Linked DNA regions of Homo sapiens. The protein of the gene in region 3 interacts with the protein of the main gene of each other region in a pairwise test. Each region holds a gene or a part of one and is shown on either strand. Other genes may lie near its edges.

Region 1 (7,000 bases), on a different chromosome or scaffold from region 3:
AGACAGGGTTTCACCACGTTGGCCAGGATGGTCTCTTGACCTCATGATCTGCCTGCCTTGGTCTCCCAAAGCGCTGGGATTACAGGCGTGAGCCACCACACCTGGCCCAGAATTAGATGATGTTAAATTTATCAAATTTAAAAATTCCACCTTCCCCAACACCTGCCCATCAACTTTTTAACCATTACCACAACTTAGGTTTATAAAAAATGAGAAGGGACAGTATCAACAGAAATTGTAAGCTGAGGCTACACAGGTGGCTCACACTCGTAATCCCAGCACTTTGGGAGGCCAAAGCAGGCAGATCACCTGAGGTCAGGAGTTTGAGACCAGCCTGGCCAACATGGTAAAACCCATCTCTACTAAAAATACAAAAATTAGCTGGGCGTGGTGGCAAACGCCTGTAATCCTGGCTATTCAGGAGGCTGAGGCAGGAGAATCGCTTGAACCAGGGAGGCGGATGTTGTAGTGAACCGAGATCGCACCATTGCATTCCAGCCTGGGCAACAAGAACAAAACTCTGTTTCAAAAAAAAAAATTGTAACCTGAAAGATAAAGGTAGGTGGTTATACTTAGCTGCTTAGAATTATTGGGATTAACAGATTCATATAACTACACATAAATGCACAAATGAGATAGATGCTTGCATTTCTATTGCCCATGGTTATTTTACATGCTGAAAATAACACAGAGATTAGAAATATTCAGTGAGTCATTCAATTTAATCTTACATTTATTCTTTGCCTTTATGCATAACTCCAGTGGAACTTCTGATTACGGTAAGGCTGACATCAAAACAGTCTACAATGTCTGAGTAAAGGCAGAGTGTTACCCAATAATGCAGAAATACCCAGTATATGCTGAGGAGCAAGGGCTTTCTGAAATTAGAGTGAGAAAGCTTGATTCTATTTCTGACCACACTGCGACAGACAGCAAATTTACTTAAGCTCTCTGATCACAGGTTTGGTCCTCTGCAAAGTGGGTCGACTAGGGCTGGCCGGTTTCTAAAGGCTCTTTGAGTTATAAGACTGCATGATTCTAGCTCCAGTCTGAGAAGTAACCAGAATCTTAACAGAGTCTTCTGCACAAAGTCACCCATCTCATAAACACAGAAAACCTCACTTCCTGATATTCAATATCCTATCTCCCACTTCAGAAACAAGAAGTGTCAATGCTTTAATTTTTTTTTTTTTAGGCGGCGCCTCGCTCTGTCGCCCAGGCTGGAGCACAGTGGTGTGATCTCAGCTCATCGCGACCTCCGCCTCCCAGGTTCAAGCAATTCTCTGCCTCAGCCTCCCAAGTAGCTGGGATACAGGCACCCGCCACCATGCCTGGCTAATTTTTCTTTTTTAGTAGAGACAGGGTTTCACCATCTTAGCCAGGCTGGTCGTGAATTCCTGACCCCATGATCCACCCGCCTCAGCCTCCCAAAGTGCTGGGATTACAGGCATGAGCCACCGCGCCCAGCCTCAATGCTTTAATTTTTTAACATCTGAGTTGTTAAGAAAAAAAATGGGTGAAAATTATGTACAATTAAAATACAGGAAAATTTAGGAGAGAATTTAAATGGTGAGGATTAATATATGTCCAATTTTTTGAACCGTGAAACTCATCTAAATTACCAAAGCACCTTGGATGAGAAGAATTATAAAAGAACTCAGTGAGAAAAGCCAGAATTTGATCCAACAGTAATTTGCTAATGACCATCTTTTTTTGGTAAATTTTATTAATTTTTTGTTTTTGTAAATTTATTAAAGTGTACGTAAATAATAGAAAAATGCATGTATCATTAAGTACAGCAAGATGAAATTTTACAAAGCTAACACACGTGATTGGCACGCAGATGATAGGCAGGACATGACAACACCCCAGAAACCCCCTTGGGTTCCCTTCTGGGTCTTACCTGCTTCCAAAATAACCACTGTTTTAACTTCAAACATCCTGCTTTTGCTTAATTTAAAGGGAAGCATATGGTATGCCCTCTTCTGTCTTTTTTGTGTTAACATTGTGTTTATGAAACTCATTTGTGTTGCTGCATGTCATTATGATCTGTTCATTCTCATTGCTGTGTAGTTTTCTATCATATGACTATACCCCAATTCACTAATTCGTTCTACTATGAAGGAATCATTGGGTTGTTTTCCATTTTGAACTATTACAAATGGTGGTGCCATGGATGATGATAAGGTTTTAAAAATGAATTTTGTGTAATTAAAATGCTTTTTCCAAAAACCATGCATCCATCAAAAATGTAGTATATAAAATAATTAAGAGAGTACCTGGAATTCTTTGGTAGCCTCTTGTAACTCCGTTTCAAGCTTTTGGATCTCCTTCTTTAGTTGAATATTTTTCTTTGTAATTTCATCAATTAGTCCCTTAAAAATATCAAATGGTACCAAAGAAAGTAAATAGCCCCTGAACTCATTTTTCCGAATGAACTAAAGACTATAAATTTCTCTCATCCTGACCAAAGAAAGACATTAGACAGTCTCAGAATAAATATGACTATGTGAATAATGCATTTGTTGAATATTTTACATCATCACCTGTCTATTCTAACATTGCCAAGTAGTACTATCTCCATTATATAAATCAGGAAACCACCTTTTACACTAGACCGAAGTCACAGAAAGTTGTATAGTAAGGCAAAGATTGAGATCAGATCTTCTGAATATTACTTCAGTGCTGCATCAACTCCTTTCCTAGCTATTTGTGAGCATGATAAGACTTTTAAATTGCACTGTAATAGCGGACATATTCTGGGGCAGTTTGTTGTTGGTGTTGTTGTTGTTTTTGTTCTTAATTATCTGTGATTCCCATAGTATCGCATAGTACACAGTTACCTTAATGAGCCAGACATATGACCTTGGGGAAGTGGTTTAAGCTACCTGGGCCTCCGTTCCCTCTTGGGGTCTAATGAGATAATTGCTGACTATGCTCTTAACTTGTTGATGCAAATCCAAGAAATGAGGGTGTGAGTGAGAAAGCAGCTAGTGTTGTAAGCCTTATAAGAGAAAGAATAAAAATATGACACTTCTTGTAAGGCTTAAATAACATAATGGAAGTTAAAAATTTTTTTAAAGCCTAACGGCCTCCCAAATTCAAGGTAATGTTGGACAAAGACATACAAAACATGCCTTACTGCAAAACTAATAGATATAAAATAATTTTTAATAATACCCAGTAATTTCCTTTTTACCTTATTTTGTTCATCTTTTATAAATTCATCTGGCGAATGCTCCTTAAGAATTTGTTGTGTGTCATCTTTATCAGCTTCCATGATCCCCTAATATTATAAAAAATAAATATTATAAGCATAGCATATATACACAAATTTAAGAACAAAGAAATAAGAACTTTTACCCTTTTATGGAAGAAACATCTCTTCTTTGCTATATCTTTTTTTCCCATCATCAAAGGCTTTATTATCATATGGCTTATATCCAAACAAAGTCTGTATTTTAATAACTCCTTTTTTTTTTCTTTTTTTGAGACAGAGTCTCTCTCTGTCGCCCAGGCTGGAGGGCAATGGTGCGATCTTGGCTCACTGCAACCTCTGCCTCCCAGGTTCAAGTGATTCCCCTGTCTCAAGCCTCCCAAGTAGTTGGGATTACAGGTACCTGCCACCATGCCCGGCTAATTTTTGTATTTTTAGTAGAGATGGGGTTTCACCATGTCGGTCAGGCTGGTCTTGAACTCTTGTCAAGTGATGCACCCCCCTCGGCCTCCCAAAGTGCTGGGATTACAGGCGTGAGCCACAGCACCTGGCCAATATTTCAAATAACTTTCACACCTATAATATATAAAAAGATTCTAAAAATCCTTTGCTTTTCAACAAAATAATATATAGAAAGTAATGAACATTAATGTTCCTTTGTAGTTCACATTCCAACCATAATATCATGCTCCATTTTAAATGAATACTATTTTGGTTTTCCAACGTTTTTCAAAGTTTTTGATTAAAATATTTAATTCTCCCTATTGTTCTCCCCAAATGTAAACAAAGTCAAGAGGCCTCCAACATATGCTTTCTCTACGCAGGTGTTCTTACCTGAAGCTTTCACTAACTCTCCTGCTGGGTCCATAAACATGGATTGGGAAGAAATTATATGTTTATTTCTAATAACCTCTAATTGAAGCTTAGCATTCTCTTCAATTATGAATATGGTAACAAACTACAGTAGTATTCACAGCACCTGTGATAGTCACCAATAGAAAGCACAGATAGTTTCATAGAATATTGTTGCAGATATGCTAAAATAGTTTGTGTTTAACATTGCTTCTACATTAGTTACTAACCTCACCACTAGGTCTTGTAATATATTGTAATACATTGATATATATCACTATATCAAACATTTGCTTTTTAAATATTCTGATAACCATATTTCAATACAATTGATTTCTGGCCGGGCGCGGTGGCTCATGTCTGTAATCCCAGCACTTTGGGAGGCCAAGGCGGGTGGATCACAAGGTTAAGAGTTTGAGACCAGCCTGGCCAACATGGTGAAACCCCGTCTCTACTAAAAATACAAAAAAAATTAGCTGGGCGTGGTGCCAGGTGCCTATAATCCCAGTCATATTTCAATACAATTGATTTACTTTGTAATTCTATGTATTTTATTTTATGCATTTAATTTTTTTTTTAGATAGGGTCTCACTTTGTTGCCCAGGCTGGAGTGCAGTGGGGCATGAACACGGCTCACTGCAGCCTCAACATCCCTGACTCAAGTGATCCTCCCACCTCAGCCCCCCAAGTAGTTGGGACTACAGGTATGTGCCACCATGCCCAGCTAATTTTTGTATTTTTTGTAGAGATGTGTTTTCGCCAAGTTGCCTAGACTGTCTCGAACTCCTGGGCTCAAACAATCCGCCCCCCTTGGACTCCCAAAGTGCTGGGATAAGCCACCATGCCTGTCCCCACAGGCATTGACTAAATGTTTTTTTTTTGGAGAAAGGCCCATAGGATTTGCCAAGCTGGCAAAGGAATCCATGGTACACAAAATTTAAGAACTCTTGCCTACATATGAATTTACTGAGATGAAAAACTCTCAGATCAAAAATGGGACAAAGGATATCATGATTCTATGTTTTTAGATACACATTAATAAACAGTCTGCCATATAATTTTCCAAGATTTCAAGTGGCTAAATTCTCAATATTCTTGAAAAAGAAATAAAAGACATCTATTCCTCCTTAAAAATAAAATAGAAGACTAGCAAAAACTTAGCTATGTCTTAGTTTAATGAACACAGGAGTGTCAAAAAAAGAGGAGAGTCGCATAACACCCAGATCTTGGTTTCTAATAATATTCTTCAATAAAAGAAACCAGGGCTCATTGGAGCAATGGCTGATTCTAGGTCTGGGGTATAAAATATACAAAATAAGCCTGGAATATCTTGTAGTGCCAGAAAAGTAAAAAGCACTAAAACACATGCACAAACACATACAATATGATGGGAGTATGTGAAAGGGACATGGGGACCCAACTGAAAGGGCTCCAGTGGCCAAAAGTACATACACAGAATTGATCAAGTAAGTAAATATATGGAGGATAATAGGAGCCAAGTTTTTCACCGTCAGAGAAGATAATTATAAATATGGAAATGGAGAAAACAAGAATAAATACTGTTGATTGGAACTAGATTTCAATGTAATCCTGCAGCTGTGGTTTCTGATTGATGATTGAGATAGATAGATAGATAGATAGATAGATAGATAGATAGATAGATAGATAAATAGACAGACAGATAGAAATACCTATGTGTGATTACCCAGGCATGGTGGCATGCACCTGTAATCCTAGCTACTCGGGAGGCTGAGGCAGGAGAATCGCTTGAAGCCGGGAGGCAGAGGTTGCAGTGAGTCAAGACTGCGTCACAGCACTCCAGCCTGAGCGACAGAGTGAGACTCCATCTCAGAAAAAAAAAAAAAAAAAGCAATGCCTATGTGTGTATCTTGTGTATATACAAATACATATATACCCTAGCTCTGTCTGCTGAGAAGGCCTGGGAGAGCAGATACAACCACAATGAGCAATGAGCACACTCAGCACCCAGACTTTGGTTTCTAATACTATTCTCCACCAAAAGGAACCAGGACTCTTTAGAGAAATGGTTGATCCCAAAACCAGGATAGAAAAACTGCAAGATGAGCCTGGGACATCTTATGATGCCAAAAAGCAAGGAAATGCTTAAAGAATGATGATGACATGTTGAAACGACACAGAATCCACCTTGAGATGGTTTTCGGTGGCCAAATCTGGGGATAAATTAAAGATTAAAATACATAATGGTAGTAATGATTAAATCTGTTGATTAAAGTAAAAAACTGAGTCCAGATAAATTAGAAATTTTGATGAAGAAAGGAATTTTTAGTTAGCTTCAAAATAGTTCCCCACAAAATGTTTATTAATTTCAAAGAAGAAAAGAGTAACTTTATACTGGAGAAGTCTGGCAGACATCAACATAATGAGATAATCAAAGTAAATAATGGAATAAATCAAAATAATGTAACATATTACAAGGTGCACTGAGAACACAATGTAACTTCGACGACAGTCCTGCCAAAGATGCATAATCTGAATCTAAGCATGAGGAAACATCAGACAAACTCAAATTGAGGGGTTCTACAATACAACTGCCCTGTTCTCTTCAAAAGTTTCAAGTTCAGAAGGCCAAGGAAAGACTAAGAAATGTCCATACTGAAGGAGACTAAAGAGACCTCACAACTAAGTAGAAAGCATGATCCTCAACTGGATCCTTTTGCTATCACTGGGGCTCAGAAACTGATACCCGGAAGTATGGCATTTTGACATGGTGAACTGAAGATGGCTCAAGGTCTCTCTGACCTCCCCCTCCTCCTCCTCTGTCTCTCCCAAAGCACAGGATGAAGGTGCACTGATGTTCTCCTATCTGCCTAAATGTGGGACCTGCCAGAAAACAGAACAATTACCTCTAGTCCCTTCCCTGAGTTTTTAATTCTGAATTCATATCACAGA
Region 2 (7,000 bases), on a different chromosome or scaffold from region 3:
GAGCAGGTGGGGCAGGGGTGCTGGGGCAGGTGAGGCAAGGCTGGGCCCTTGGGCCTTAGCTCCTCCCCTCTACATCCATTGCCTGTCTGTTTTCTCTCCACAGCTTAACTCTGGCTACTATGTATCTGGGAGCTCCTCAGGCTTCCAGGGGGGCCAGATCACACTCAGCATGCAGAAGGTGAGCGGCGTTTTCCTCCCACCCCTTCTCACAACCTCTTCTCTGTTGCACTCTTGAAATTCCCCTCAGGACAAAGGACAAACATCCATCTCTGAGGCCCTTCCTGGTCACTCCTGCTGCTCTTTTTTTCATGCATTCATATACTTGTTGAGTAGATTTTTGAACACTTAGTGCTAGGCACTAGGCATATTGGCGAGAACAAAATAGAGGTCAAAACTTTCATGGACCAGACAAGAAATAAATAAAAGAATATATCTTTAGGTTCTACTTGTGGTAACAGACAAGAAATCAGTAAAATAGCATATCAGTGTGTTATGAGTACCACAAAGATAAAGCACAGAAGAGAGAGCTAAGAGTGAGTTGGAGTCAGTTGGCATCTGGTGGTCACTGTGCCCTTTTTCCCTTTATTAGCACTTTAGGCCTTTCTGGAATGCCTTCCGTGACTCCCCATCAGTTAAGAGCCTTAGTTCCCAGCACCGACCATGCAGTATTGAATTTTCTCCCATTTTTCTGGGAGCCCTTAGGAAAGTACTTGGTTTGGGGTGTCAGAATCGATCATTGCCCTGCACGGGGTGCTTGGGGTGGAGTGTATGCTGGGGATGTAAGGGAGGCCTGCTGCCACGTCTGGCCCTGCCTCCCATGGCCCTGCCTCCCACTCCTTAGTTTGAGATGCTGAATGCAGAGTTAGAGGAAAACCAGGAACTGGCCAACAGCCGTATGGCAGAGCTGGAGAAACTGCAGGCCGAACTTCAGGGGGCTGTGCGGACCAATGAGCGCCTCAAGGTGGGCTGCTGTAGGGGCTGAGAGGTCCTGGGCCTGTAAGGGAGGGACTGAGCCCTGAATCCTGTTGCTGATCCCATTTGGGCATCCCTGCCCCAGGTGGCCCTGCGGAGCCTTCCTGAGGAGGTAGTGCGGGAGACGGGGGAGTACCGCATGCTGCAGGCCCAATTCTCACTGCTCTACAACGAGTCTCTGCAAGTGAAGACCCAGCTAGACGAGGCTCGGGGCCTGCTGCTGGCCACAAAGAACTCCCACCTGCGACACATCGAGCACATGGAGGTATGGCCCTGGAACAGGCGTTAGGGCTGGGCTAAGGGCCAAACCGTTAGTGTTGACGTGTTTGTGCCTTCCGAGGCCCTGTGTGCCAGCCAGGGGTCCCTGGGGAATAGATTCTTCCTAAGATACTGAGTCCTGAGGTGGGACCGAGGGGCTGTGTGGGTCCTTAACACATCAACCCACAGAGCGACGAGCTGGGGCTGCAGAAGAAGCTACGCACAGAGGTCATTCAGCTGGAGGACACGCTGGCCCAGGTACGCAAGGAGTATGAGATGCTGCGCATCGAGTTTGAGCAGAATCTGGCGGCCAACGAGCAGGCGGGTATGTGGTGAGGATAGGGCGGAGGTGGGGCCTTATCTGGGAGTGCTGGGCCCTGGTGTGGGGCTGCTGCTTATCCAGATGCAAGAGGCTAAGGCCTTTTTTTTCACAGAGCCTCGGCTTCCTATGCAAAACAGGGCCTGCACTGCTTGGCTCCCAGGCACAGTGAGGGTCCGCCAGCTGGGGTGGCTGATGGAGCAGGCACATGCAGAGTCTGAGCTGTCAGCCCTGTCCTCATTCTTCTGGTCTGATGACGTCTCTGTCTCTCAGATACTTGTGTTACAAAGATTTATCAAATGCCACCTCTGAGCCAGGCTCTGTTCTAGGGTTTGGGGTTATGCCAGTGAACAAAACAGAATTCCTGCCATGTGGAGCAACATTCTGATAGAAGACAGACTAGAGGAAGACGAACTAGTAGAAGAAAAATGGAAAATGTGTTAGCTCTTGACAGATAGGAAAGTAAAGCAGAAAAGGAAGATAGGAAGTATCAGGAGAAAGGGTGTTGCAATTTTGAATAGGAGGCCAGGGAAATGTACTGGGAAGGTGATATTTAAGAATCTAGAAGAAGTTAACTAACTTTTGTGAATGTTACAGTTACCTTCTCTATTAAAGGGAATTGGATGTATAAAAAAAAAAAAGAAAAAACCTAGGCCAGGTGTGGTGATTCATGTCTGTAATCCCAGCACTTTCGGAGGCCAAGGTGGGAGGATCACTTGAGGCCAGGAATTTGAGACCAGCCAGGGCAACAAAGTGAGACACTGTTTCTATTTAAAAAAAAAACAAAAAACCCCACATATTCTATATTAGCAAAAATCGTATGAATAGGCAGTGTCAAGTTAATTTTGGGTGAGTTTCCTTGAAGTCAGCATTATTTACTTTGATGAGTTCATGCTCCGTTGAGGCCGCAATGTTCCCCTCCTGCACAGTGGGAGTGATGGCATAGCCTCTTACCCCACTGAGGGGTTGGAGTCCTAACCCAGGAACTGGTTCTGACACCTTTACTTGCTGATGCTCCTCCAGGGCCCATCAACCGTGAGATGCGCCACCTGATTAGTAGTCTTCAAAACCACAACCACCAGCTAAAAGGGGACGCCCAGCGATACAAGCGGAAGCTTCGAGAAGTACAAGCTGAGATTGGCAAGGTGAGAAGGGGCCTGCCTGGGAAAAGGTTTGGCTAGACTCCAGTGAACACCATCTGACTTCATCCCTCTTCCTCTCTGCCTTTGCAGCTCCGGGCCCAGGCCAGTGGCTCTGCCCACTCCACCCCCAACCTGGGCCACCCAGAGGATTCTGGCGTCAGTGCCCCAGCCCCAGGGAAAGAGGAGGGTGGGCCAGGCCCTGTCAGTACCCCCGACAACAGAAAGGAGATGGCTCCAGTGCCTGGCACCACCACTACTACCACTTCAGTGAAGAAGGAGGAGCTGGTCCCCTCTGAAGAGGACTTCCAGGGTATAACCCCTGGGGCCCAGGGCCCTTCCTCCCGGGGCCGAGAACCTGAGGCCAGGCCCAAGCGGGAGCTTCGGGAACGGGAAGGTCCCAGCCTAGGACCTCCACCTGTAGCCTCCGCTCTCTCAAGGGCTGATCGGGAGAAGGCCAAGGTGGAAGAAACCAAGCGGAAGGAATCAGAACTCCTCAAGGGTCTCCGAGCAGAGCTCAAGTGAGGCTCTGTTCCTGTCTCCTTCCTGACCCTGCCAGGTGGCCTCCAGTCCCACTCACTAAGACTTCCTCCTGTACCTTCTTGCCAGGAAGGCCCAGGAGAGCCAGAAGGAGATGAAACTGCTGCTGGATATGTACAAGTCAGCGCCCAAGGAGCAGCGGGATAAGGTGCAGCTCATGGCAGCGGAACGCAAGGCTAAGGCCGAGGTGAGGGCAGCTGGGGCTTGTGGGGCATTCAGAAAGGCAGAGCAGAGTCCTAGCTCAGCAGGAAGCAGTGTCAAGAGAGTTTCTTCTTCCCTGTGCTATAGGTTGATGAGCTGCGGAGCCGCATCCGGGAATTGGAGGAGAGGGATCGAAGGGAGAGCAAGAAGATCGCGGATGAGGATGCCCTGCGGCGCATTCGGCAGGCAGAGGAGCAGATAGAACACCTGCAGCGCAAGCTGGGTGCCACCAAGCAGGTGCGGCCCATGTGGTGCCCTCGCGTCGGAGCGCAGGGAGTTCCCTTCATACCCTGTTTGGTGCCTCTAGTGCCTGCAGGACCTTGATGATCTGGGTCCCCTCTGTAGTTCTTTGCTTCGCTGCGTTTTCCCATGGTTCCCCCACAGCCATCCTGTCCACTTCCCACGTTCCATCTTGTCTCTGCCCACTTGCTGCAGGAGGAGGAGGCTCTGCTCTCAGAGATGGATGTGACAGGTCAGGCTTTTGAGGACATGCAGGAACAGAACGGGCGGCTGCTACAGCAGTTGCGGGAAAAGGATGATGCCAACTTTAAGCTAATGTCAGAGCGGATCAAGGCCAACCAGATTCACAAGCTGCTGCGGGAGGAGAAGGATGAGTTGGGCGAGCAGGTCCTTGGCCTCAAGTCCCAGGTATGGCCGCCGCCAGCTTGCAGACTGGAGCTGGAGAGGTGGGGGTCATGGCCCTGAGTCCTCCTCTGGTCCTTAGGTGGATGCCCAGCTGCTGACTGTGCAGAAGCTAGAGGAGAAGGAGCGAGCCTTGCAGGGCAGCCTCGGGGGTGTGGAGAAGGAGCTGACGCTGCGCAGCCAAGCCCTGGAGCTCAACAAGCGGAAGGTGAGGCTGGGCCAGGGGGACACACAGCTTGGGCTGCTGGCTCACCTCCTCACCTTCCGGTTCTGCTCAGAGCACCCGATGCAATAGCCTGAGGTGAAGCCAGGCTGTCACAGAACAGCTCACACATATTGAACATTTACATGTGCCAGACCACATGCTGAGTACTTGACATGCTTGGTCACATTTCAGTCTCACTAATCCTATCAAGATGGTGTTTACGGGCGTGGTGGCTCACGTCTGTGATCCCAACACTTTGGGAAACAGAGGCGGGAGGTTTGCTTGAGGCCAGGAGTTGGAGACCAGCCTGGGCAACATAGTGAGACCCCATCTCTACAAAAAAATTTTAAAATTAGCTGGGTGTGCTGGTGCACGCCTGTAGTCCCAGCTTCTCGAGCAGGCTGACAGGTGAGAGGATCACTTGAACCCAGGAGGTTGAGGCTGCAGTGAGCTATGATCGCACTGCACTGCAGTCTGGGTGACAAGAGCGAGACTCTGTCCCTAGGGAAAAAAAACAAAAGATTTTTGAGTTGGAGTCTTGTTCTGTCGCCCGGGCTGGAGTGCAGTGGTGCGATCTCGGCTCACTGCAACCTCCGCCTCCCAGGTTCAAGCAACTCTCCCAACCTCAGCCTCTCAAGTAGCTGGGATTACAGGCGCGCACCACCACGCCTGGCTAATTTTTGTATTTTTTTTTAGTAGAGACAGGGTTTCGCCATGTTGACCAGGCTGGTATCGAACTCCTGACCTTGTGATCCACCCACATTGGCCTCCCAAAGTGCTGGGGTTACAGCGTGAGCCACTGCACCTGGCTGGATTTTGTTTTTAGCCTCGTTTTATAAATAAGGAAACTGAGGCTCAGGGAGGTGGATTGTTCTGCTCAAGAGGGAGTGGCCCTAATATTTGGGTCCAAGCCTCCTTGACTCCAGGCTCTACCTTCTAACCACTCGCTGGTGAACTGTAAAGTGGGGATGATGTTCTTTGTCACATAGTTGTATTAAATAGAAGAAATGTCTAGCTTTGGCTAAAGGCTTAAGATTAACATTGATTTCCATTTCCTCTGAAGCTGTTTTCTTCTCCAGTTAGTTCATTCATTTAAGCAGTATGTTTGTGGTTTTTTTGTTGTTGTTTTTTTTAGACGGAGTCTAGCTCTGTTGCCCAGGCTGGAGTACAGTGGCTCGGTCTCAGTTCACTGCAACCTCCGCCTCCCAGGTTCAAGCGATTCTTCTGCCTTAGTGTCCCGAGTAGCTGGGACTACAGGAGCCTGCCACCTCGCCCAGCTAATTTTTGTATTTTTAGTAGAGACGGGGTTTCACTGTGTTTGCCAGGCTGGTCTCAAACTCCTGACATCGTGATTTGCCCGCCTTGGCCTCCCAAAGTGTTGGGATTACAAGTGTGAGCCACTGTGCTTGGCCCATTTAAGCAGCATATTTTACATCCCTGCTATGTACTAGGCCTTGCGCTGATTGCTGTGGAGACATTGGGAACAAGAAGGTCCCTGCCTTCCAGTCAAAGCTGGAACTTCAGGTCTTGGCAGGCAGAGCAGGCCAGTAATCCCCCAAATAAAATAGTGCATGTCACAGTAAGCCTTGTGCAGGAATCTGAGGTGCTGTCAAAGAAAAATAGGGGAGCCTTTTAGGAGGTGACACTTGAGCTGAGGCCCAGGGGAGCTGCATGTGTGGTGGGGAAGTTGAGGGGAGCAGAGAGGAGAGCCTTGTGAAAGCTCAAAAACCAGACAGCAGGCCAGGCGTGGTGGCTCACGACTGTAATCCCAGCACTTTGGGAGGCCGAGGCGGGCAGATCATGAGGTCAGGAGATCTAGACCATCCTGGCTAACACGGTGAAACCCCATCTCTACTAAAAATACAAAAAATTAGCTGGGTGTGGTGGTGGGCGCCTATAGTCCCAGCTACTCGGGAGGCTGAGGCAGGAGAATGGTGTGAACCCAGGAGTCGGAGGTTGCAGTGAGCTGAGATCGTGTCACTGGACTCCAGCGTGGGGGACAGAGTAAGACTCCGTCTCAAAAAAACAAAAAACAAAGAAACCCCAAAAAACAGCATCACACGGGAGGAACTGGAGAGGGAGAACAGGAGGGGAGGGCTTAGGGCTCAGGAGGCAGGAGCAGCTCCAGGGCAGGTGTCACTGGGGCCCTGGACAGAAGCATTGGTGGGCCGTGACTCCACATGCCTGAGTCACCAGGCTCAGACCAGTGCCTCCTTCCTGTTCCACCCTACTCAGGCTGTAGAAGCCGCCCAGCTGGCCGAGGACCTGAAGGTGCAGCTGGAGCACGTGCAGACTCGGCTGCGGGAGATCCAGCCCTGCCTGGCAGAGAGCCGGGCTGCTCGTGAGAAAGAGAGCTTCAACCTCAAGAGGGCTCAGGTGTGTGCAGGGGTGAGGGGCCAGGCCAGGGTGGTCCACGGTCACGGACCTATCCTGGGGGCAAGCGGCTCAAGGTTGAGGACCCTTGCCCTTAGCCAGGCCTCTCCTGCCCCAGGAGGACATCTCACGGCTGCGGCGCAAGCTGGAAAAGCAGAGGAAGGTGGAGGTCTACGCAGATGCCGACGAAATCCTCCAGGAGGAGATCAAGGAGTACAAGGTGGGGCTGTGGGCCAAGTTGTGCCCTATCCACCTGAGAATTGTAGATGCAGGATTGCTGAGACTAGTGGAGAGTCTGGGGACCCTGGAAGTAATGTAGGGCAGCAGAAAGTGGGCAGCACAGTGGTCACA
Region 3 (7,716 bases):
TCTCTAATGGATTTGACAAAATGCCAGATCTGGGAGAATAAAAGGACAGGAAATTCAGGTGAAGGGAGCTTTTTAGGTTCTTGTTTAGTACATTGTCCTGAATATTAGTTATTAGATACATTTTCTAGCTGCCTGGTGATGGAAAGGTTTCATTGTGCTAATAATACTGATCCTCTCCGTATCTCCGTGTTCTAAGTAACCATCCTACTCAGTGAGGCAATCGCTCCGGCATGCCTAACAGCTATGTCAAGGGCCCTTTTCTCTTGAAGTTGATAATAAAACCCTCTCTTGCATATCTTGGCTAAAGAATATGAAATAGTTAAATCATAAAGGTCAATGTTTGGTAACAAAGTCTCTACAAGTGCAGCCATTACACATTATGGAATTCCATGTGAGATCGTTAAGGTAATAGAGAAAAAAATAGAAATATTTGTCAATTATTCTCAAAGAGAAATTTATGAAATTACACAGCACTAAAACATCACTTTACCATGGATGGGTCTATAAGATGCGACTTGAATTCATGGCAAGAGAAACTCATAGAAGAGTTTTTGAAGGGCATTTTCAACTTATGTACAAATGTCATAAGAAGTGTTGAAAGTCAGTTAAGAGAATTTGGCAGATTTTCTTGTGTTATAAATTTGTATTAAATTTAGTTTGTTTAATTTGTCCTAATGGACATCATAAATCAACAGAATCATGTGGATTTTACACAATTCCTCACCCAAGTGGATTTTAATCCTAGTTTCAGAAGCGTATATTTTTATCTTTGTTTCTTTTTTTTTTTTTTTTTAGAAGGAGTCTCTGTCGCCCAGGCTGGAGCGCAACGGTGTGATCTCGGCTCACTGCAATCTCCGAATCTCCGCCTCCCAGGTTCAAGCGATTCTCCTGCCTGAGTCTCCCAAGTAGCTGAGACTACAGACGCCCACCACCACGCCCAGCTAATTTTTGTATTTTTAGTAGAGACAGGATTTCACCATATTGGCCAGGCTGGTCTTGAACTCCTGACCTTGTGATCAGCCCGCCTCGGCCTCCCAAAGTGCTGGGATTACAGGCGTGAGCCACTGCACCCGGCCTATGTATTCGTTTCTTTTAAAAAAAAACCTATGGATACTAGTTATGTCTACATGACACAAAAATTTTTGTCAATACAGAAAAGTCTATGGTAATATAATTTAAGTTAGCTTGAGACTATTGTTAAGATTAAAAAATAATACTAAAGCTGAGAATTTAAAAATTAAAATGAACATTTTAATTATGGCTAAAAAGTACGTGTGTTTGTGCTTTTTTGTATAGGTAGAGAGAGAGACTGAGAGACTATTTACTATTCTTTTCTTGCCATTAGACAAGAATAAGAATAAAAAAAATTTTTTTGTAAAACCTCATAAAGATTTTAGGTCTATATCATCATCCCACCAACAATAATTACAGACAAGAACGAAGCATTTTACCACTCCCTGATGAGTAACAAAGTAGCCAACAGTAGCCTTGGGTATTGAAGAAATTTTAAAACACAAGGAAAGCCTGACTTAAGTTGATATTAATTACTATTATTATTGGAGTCTACTGCTTAAATTGTTCTCTATGGCAGGGTAAGGAGTCTTTGCTTCCTGGCTCACTGGGCCAGTATTTTTTCCTGCCTGAAAAGTTTCATACGAAACATACAATGTCCTGTGTCAGAAACACCAAAGTCTTCACAGGCTAATAGATTTGAAGTCACTTAAGACATTGAAATGTACGCTATGCTTTATCTAAAGGTACAATTAAAAGTATGGGGGCTATATTCCAGATCTCTGACATGAAGCCGAGAGGAAACTGGATTTCCAGTTTGTTATGTGAAAAGGTTAAGTAAAATACAAACTTCTGTACAGGGAGATAATTCAGTTCTAATAATGCATGAAAGCCAGAGATGTAGATCAACAAATGCACATTTCTGAAATACGGGTTTTTCTGAGTATATGTTCTGAAGTTCTTTGAAAATCTGGCCAAACAATCCCATTTTAAGATACCAGTTCACATAATAAGCAAGTCAGAACATTTGCAAGGCAAAATGTTGTTTTCCTTTCTGCAGCCAGGAAAAACACAGCTCTAAGCTTAGGTTGTAACGGTAAAAGGATTTGGGAGCTGCTGATTTTAGAGACTCATAAAAACAACTCGCCCTTATGCCGGGAGGTATAAAGAATATGCAGAGTCTGCACTGTGCTTCTAGTGTCAGGACAAATCATTCTGCTTTTTCTTTGAGATTAACTGATGCCAATGGATGAGTAAAGGGAGAAATAAATGTACAGACTGAGACCTGCAGCTTGGTGAGGTGAGTAACACCTTTATCACAAAATCATGAGTTCTCTCTTCCCCTTTGTAAATTCCTTGGGGTTAACTTATGTAATTTTAAAAAATTTTAGGAGTGAAATATGTATTATTAATCATATGTGAGGCTCTACATTTTCTGCTATTTATGGTTTATATTGTGTGGGATCTTACAGATCACAGCATCTTTTTAAAATATATGTGCTTTTTTGGGGGGTGGGAGATAAATCAAGGGGTGAAACTGAAGGTGATACATTCCCTTAAATCCATTAGGGAATGGTGAATACACTTGCATATATAAAATAACTACTGAGTGCTTCCTAGATACCTAGCTCTGTTCCAGCTGCCTCTCACCAGTTCTCATTTAATTCTCCAATCCCATATTAAGAGGTGAAGAAACTGAGGCACAGAATCACCTCATTAAGAAGCACATAAAGTATGGTGCCAGGATTTGAACCTAGACAATTTGACTGTAACGTGTACGCCCCTAATCATTCCCTTAGGTAGTCCTCAGGTTCTGTAATTATTATACCTGACTGCTTAAGACTCAGGTAACTCCCTTTTGGCCACTTCTAAGCCACTACTGTCAGATGTTATTAATAGTAAAGAGACGATATCAATGTTTAAAATGGCCATTCAATAAGAGGACTGAAAACACTGGCCCCTGGAAATTCCCAACTTCCACGTGACTCAGAAGTTACTCAACTCTTTCACTAAACCCAGTGCTCCACCCAATGTAGCTAACTTTGTCGTCGCGTAGCAACAGAACCTCGCCATACTGGAAGCGGGGCGCGGGGGGGGGATTTTCTCGACTGAGGATGCTGCTGCCCGGTAGCCAGCAAGGGCCCTGTCGGTCTCAAACGTGAATTTTGGACCGACACAATCTCATGTAGTGATTGTTCTGCTTCCTGTGTTGCGCCACAACAAATTTCCTTGGGCTACATTTTCCCTCAGATTTGAGTAAAAGATTTGAGGTCACGCTAAGGAGCCTGCATACTGAGGTACAGAAACGGTTTTTTGTTTACAACAACAACAAAAAACCTCGCGACGGGACCGCCGAGTTTGCGGCAGCCAAAAAAGCTAGCGATGAGCTCAGCTAAAGTGCCGGGACTCTCGGATAGATTTCTAACATGTTTGAAATGTGGACCCCAACGCTGGAACCCAACGCTGTTCTTTTGTGGTCTCTGGAACCACCACGCTGGAATAGGCTGGAACCCAACCAACGCTGTTCTTTTGTGGTCTCTGCCTCTGGGGAGTCCACAAGCTGTAAATCTAACATGCAGCCAGCCGTGCGGCTTCTGGCCGCCCCACGTCTGAGTAAAGCCTTCACTGTGACTAGCAGGGAGAGGAGACTGACTGGAGCCAGAGAATGGAGGCGGCGGGCTGGCGGGGGTGGGGAGAGGCACTTTCAGGCGCACTTCACAGACGCACAAAAACAAGGAAGCCTGAAGGGAAGGCGGTTGAAAATAAGGCAACAGAAGCCGCGAACGGAAGCGCGCCCCCCTCAGGATTGGTTTAACATTCCGAAGCTCAGCCTCGCCCGCCCCGAAGACCTGCTGCGGATCGCGGCCGCGCGCGCGCGCACTCACGCTGCTCTCGGGCGCTGGGCGGGGAGAGCCGCGCGCACCGGTTAATTCTGCCAATCATGCGTCTGGGCCTCCCATCGTGTGGGCCAAGCCCCGCCCCAACCACCCGCTGGCGGAGGCGCGCGCGCAGTCCCACCGCTCTGAGTCGCTGAGTGAAGCGGCGCCTCGCGCGTCAGGCAATCTGGCCAATTGCGCATCTTTTCCGCCTACCGCACGGCCCCGCCCCTGCCACAGGATCGATTTACGGCCGCAGGTGCGCGCGCTTTTTTGCTCTCGCTGGGAATGGCGGAGGGAGGTACCCTGCTGAGGGGAAGGGGGGATCCCTGACACCTGGGCTTCCCCGGGAGTCGGCTGTGGAGTCGAGTTGAGCTCCCTTTCCGGGTCTGGGGAACTCAACCTCACCTTATGCCTGGGGTCTCCGGGGAACTAGTGGGCTTTCTGCAACGGGGGGAAGGAGGGGACGACTCCCGCCCCTAGTTTACCCCTCAAAAGTTAATGCCTTTGTCGGAGGAAGCAATTTCAGTCCACTCTCCTTTTCAGTCCCTGTTGGCCGCTTAAACTAAAAGGCTACAGACGGGCTTAAATGCGTCTCCGCTGTGTTTCTTATGCCTCGGGCCGGCAGGGTAACGGGTTCTAGTCACAGCTTGTAGAGTTCAGGATGGGTGACATTCAGGTCCTATTGTTTTTGAGTCAAGGTTTCGGCTATAGCTTCTTGAATTATGAAGCTGTCATAATAAAGAATTCCTGATTATCTAAAGCTGTTATTCTTCCCTACTTCCAAGGCAGAATTTGAATATATTTTGGTGGATGAAACGAAAACAAGGAGAGTCTTGTGACTATGAGATACTAGCTGGTTGATGTATCATGAAAAACTTAGTGGTCCCTATGTGGGAAGGTAAATGGAAAACTGCAAAAAGAGCAAGAATGAATTACAAAGTGAAATTAGAAGAAATATCTGGCTTACTTGTGGATGCTTTGTACACCAATACAATATATTATTTGATAAAAGTCGACTATAGAGAGGTGTGGTTAATTCGATTATTTTATAATTTTTCTTTTTTAGAGAAAAACCAAGATTTCACTTTCAAGATGGAAAGTCCGTCAGACTCAGCTGTGGTTTTACCTAGCACTCCTCAGGCCTCTGCGAATCCATCATCTCCCTATACAAATAGTTCCCGAAAACAAGTATGAAAATCTTTGTTCTTCCAGTGGATCCATTATGTGTTTCTAAGTATTGTGGCAGTGGTGGTTTAAATTCTACGGAAGGTTGTTAATTAACATAATGTGTAGCATAAATAAGTAGACATTTTATTAAATAATTTTGTTTTTCTTCTAAGGTGACATATATGACACCCACCAGCCCCCTTCCATATTTTCCTCTTGAATGAATTCATTTCAGTTAGTTTCAGATTAGGTTATTACAATACTCCAGATGGAGAAAGTTTGCATCTGTGCAATATTATTATGAAGGTCTTTAGTGGCAGAGTCTAGGTCTTTTCCTTACTCTGTAATTCTGAAGCACCTGGAGTACTATCAGGCATGTGCTTGTTACTGAACAAATGTTCCTTGATTACTGGGATAAACTTCTCAACACTTTTGGAAAGGTGTTGATCTTGCTGAAGTAAAAAGGAAATAAAACAAATGGAGCTTCCAGAAATTAAAGTCATTTTGTGATGCCTTCTTTAGATGTGGAGACAGAAAGCCATCTAGTGGTGTCTAGCATAGAAATGGAAGGACTTTATTTCTGGTGATTTATTGACATTAAGAATGTTTTTCTTGATTCACATTTTTAATGTTTTGTGCTCTTTATAGCCTATGAGTGCAACACTTAGAGAAAGATTAAGGAAAACAAGATTTTCATTTAATTCCTCTTACAATGTGGTGAAACGTCTTAAAGTAGAGAGTGAAGAAAATGATCAGACCTTTTCAGAGAAACCAGCATCTTCCACAGAGGAAAACTGTTTGGAATTTCAAGAAAGTTTTAAACATATAGACAGTGAATTTGAAGAAAATACAAATTTGAAAAATACTTTGAAGAATCTCAATGTCTGTGAATCTCAGTCACTTGATTCTGGATCATGCAGTGCTCTCCAAAATGAGTTTGTGAGTGAGAAGCTTCCTAAACAAAGATTAAACGCTGAAAAAGCCAAATTGGTGAAGCAGGTTCAGGAGAAAGAAGACCTTCTTCGGAGGCTAAAACTAGTCAAAATGTATAGATCAAAGGTGAGAAGAATTTCAGGACCATTGCATAATTTTTATTTTTACATAAATTACAGGAAAGTAATTTCAAAAATAGAATTTTTTTTTTTACCATAATAAGCAATAAGCCAAATATTCAGAAACCTGGCTTCCAACAGCTTTAATTCAACTCCAGATTTAGAGTAGAAAAGGCCCTTAAACACCAGGTAAAACTTTTTAAGAATCTCAGCTCTGATTTAATATGCAGTTAAACTTTTCTCTCTAGTTTCTAGCCCACAGCAATATTAGAAGTATTAAATGTTAGATGCAAGTACAATGGGAACAGAAGTGAAAGCTGACAGTGAATTAGTAAAACTAAAAATGGGCTGTAGAGTACAATAAAAGGTATTTTTAGTAATGATCTTGTGTCTCCCCCAAATAATTAATGTGATTCAGCCATTTTATTTGAGAAAATATATATATATATATATTATATTTTAGATTTCAACCCATATAGGTTGAATTAAATAGAACTTGGGTACTTGGAAGGAGAATAATCTTTATTACCTGGAAAATTCATATATATGCAATAGCTCATTTTCCCTGAATTACGTGGAATAAGTGATGGGATAGTGTATCTCATTTGTTCTCTTGAAATTCTGGAGTTTTTAAAAAATAAAATTTAGGAGTATTGAATGTTGAAAAAATATATTTTATTTATTTATTCATTCTTTTTTTAGAGACATGGTCTCTGTTGCCCAGCCTGGAGGGCAGTGGTGCAGTCATAGCTTATTGCAGCCTTGAACTCCTGGGCTCAAGTGATCCTCCCAACTCAGCCTCCCTAGTAGCTGGGACTACAGACATGTGCCATCACACCTGGCTAATTTTTTAAAATTATTTTTTTGTAGACATAGAGTCTTGCTATTTTGCACAGTGTAGTCTTGAACTCCTGGGCTCAAGCAGTCCTCCCACCTTGGCCTCCTAAGGTGCTGGGATCCCAGGTGTGAGCCACCATCCCCAGCCTAAAAAAATATTTTTAACTTGAATATTGTAATTTTAAAGAGCAGTTTTAGGTTCATAGCAACATTTAGTGGAAAGCATAGTGTCATTTTTTAAAAAGTACAGTTGTAATACAGTAGATTTTTCCCTGTATTATTGCTTCTTGACATAGTTTTGGCCCTATTTAATGATTTGATTTTTCCCTTATCATAAAGATGGCCCAGAGCTTAAGCCAACAAAATAGCCATAGAACTCAAGTTGAGTGACATTGTAACCATTCTACATATGACCATCCTACTTTTTCCTAGATAGAAGTCCCATTCATCCCTGTGTATGTTAGCCTTTAAACCTGCACATCCACTAATTTAACAACTTTAATTAAGTTGAACTAGCATGACTAGTTATTGACATACATGTTTTTTTTTCTGTTTCAGAATGATCTGTCTCAGTTACAGTTGTTAATAAAGAAGTGGAGAAGCTGTAGCCAGCTCTTGCTTTATGAGTTGCAGTCAGCTGTGTCTGAAGAGAACAAGAAACTAAGCCTTACTCAATTGATAGACCACTATGGGTTAGATGATAAATTACTACACTATAACAGAAGTGAAGAAGAATTTATAGATGTTTAATTCCTGATTTTTGCTCCAGA

Evidence for each region. The genes of interacting proteins can lie anywhere in the genome.
Region 1: the proteins of SFR1 (region 3) and NMI interact in binary tests that used the Homo sapiens proteins (3 or more experiments, as listed by UniProt).
Region 2: the proteins of SFR1 (region 3) and RNF40 interact in binary tests that used the Homo sapiens proteins (3 or more experiments, as listed by UniProt).

What each region holds. Positions count from the first base shown.
Region 1 is NC_000002.12:151,279,669-151,286,668, forward strand, and holds part of NMI (N-myc-interactor), read right to left. Parts: intron 4,623-7,000; exon of another isoform or gene 3,631-4,622; coding exon of another isoform or gene 3,364-3,630; intron 3,287-3,363; coding exon of another isoform or gene 3,281-3,286; coding exon 3,200-3,280; intron 2,376-3,199; coding exon 2,280-2,375; intron 1-2,279. UniProt on the Homo sapiens protein: Acts as a signaling pathway regulator involved in innate immune system response.
Region 2 is NC_000016.10:30,765,322-30,772,321, forward strand, and holds part of RNF40 (E3 ubiquitin-protein ligase BRE1B), read left to right. Parts: coding exon 1-6; intron 7-103; coding exon 104-178; intron 179-841; coding exon 842-961; intron 962-1,057; coding exon 1,058-1,237; intron 1,238-1,419; coding exon 1,420-1,555; intron 1,556-2,572; coding exon 2,573-2,694; intron 2,695-2,781; coding exon 2,782-3,209; intron 3,210-3,297; coding exon 3,298-3,415; intron 3,416-3,516; coding exon 3,517-3,666; intron 3,667-3,864; coding exon 3,865-4,077; intron 4,078-4,153; coding exon 4,154-4,279; intron 4,280-6,511; coding exon 6,512-6,652; intron 6,653-6,767; coding exon 6,768-6,869; intron 6,870-7,000.
Region 3 is NC_000010.11:104,118,009-104,125,724, forward strand, and holds the start of SFR1 (swi5-dependent recombination DNA repair protein 1 homolog), read left to right. Parts: upstream 1-4,162; 5' UTR 4,163-4,175; coding exon 4,176-4,188; exon of another isoform or gene 4,189-4,757; coding exon of another isoform or gene 4,758-4,956; coding exon 4,957-5,078; intron 5,079-5,705; coding exon 5,706-6,116; intron 6,117-7,504; coding exon 7,505-7,696; 3' UTR 7,697-7,716. UniProt on the Homo sapiens protein: Component of the SWI5-SFR1 complex, a complex required for double-strand break repair via homologous recombination. Acts as a transcriptional modulator for ESR1.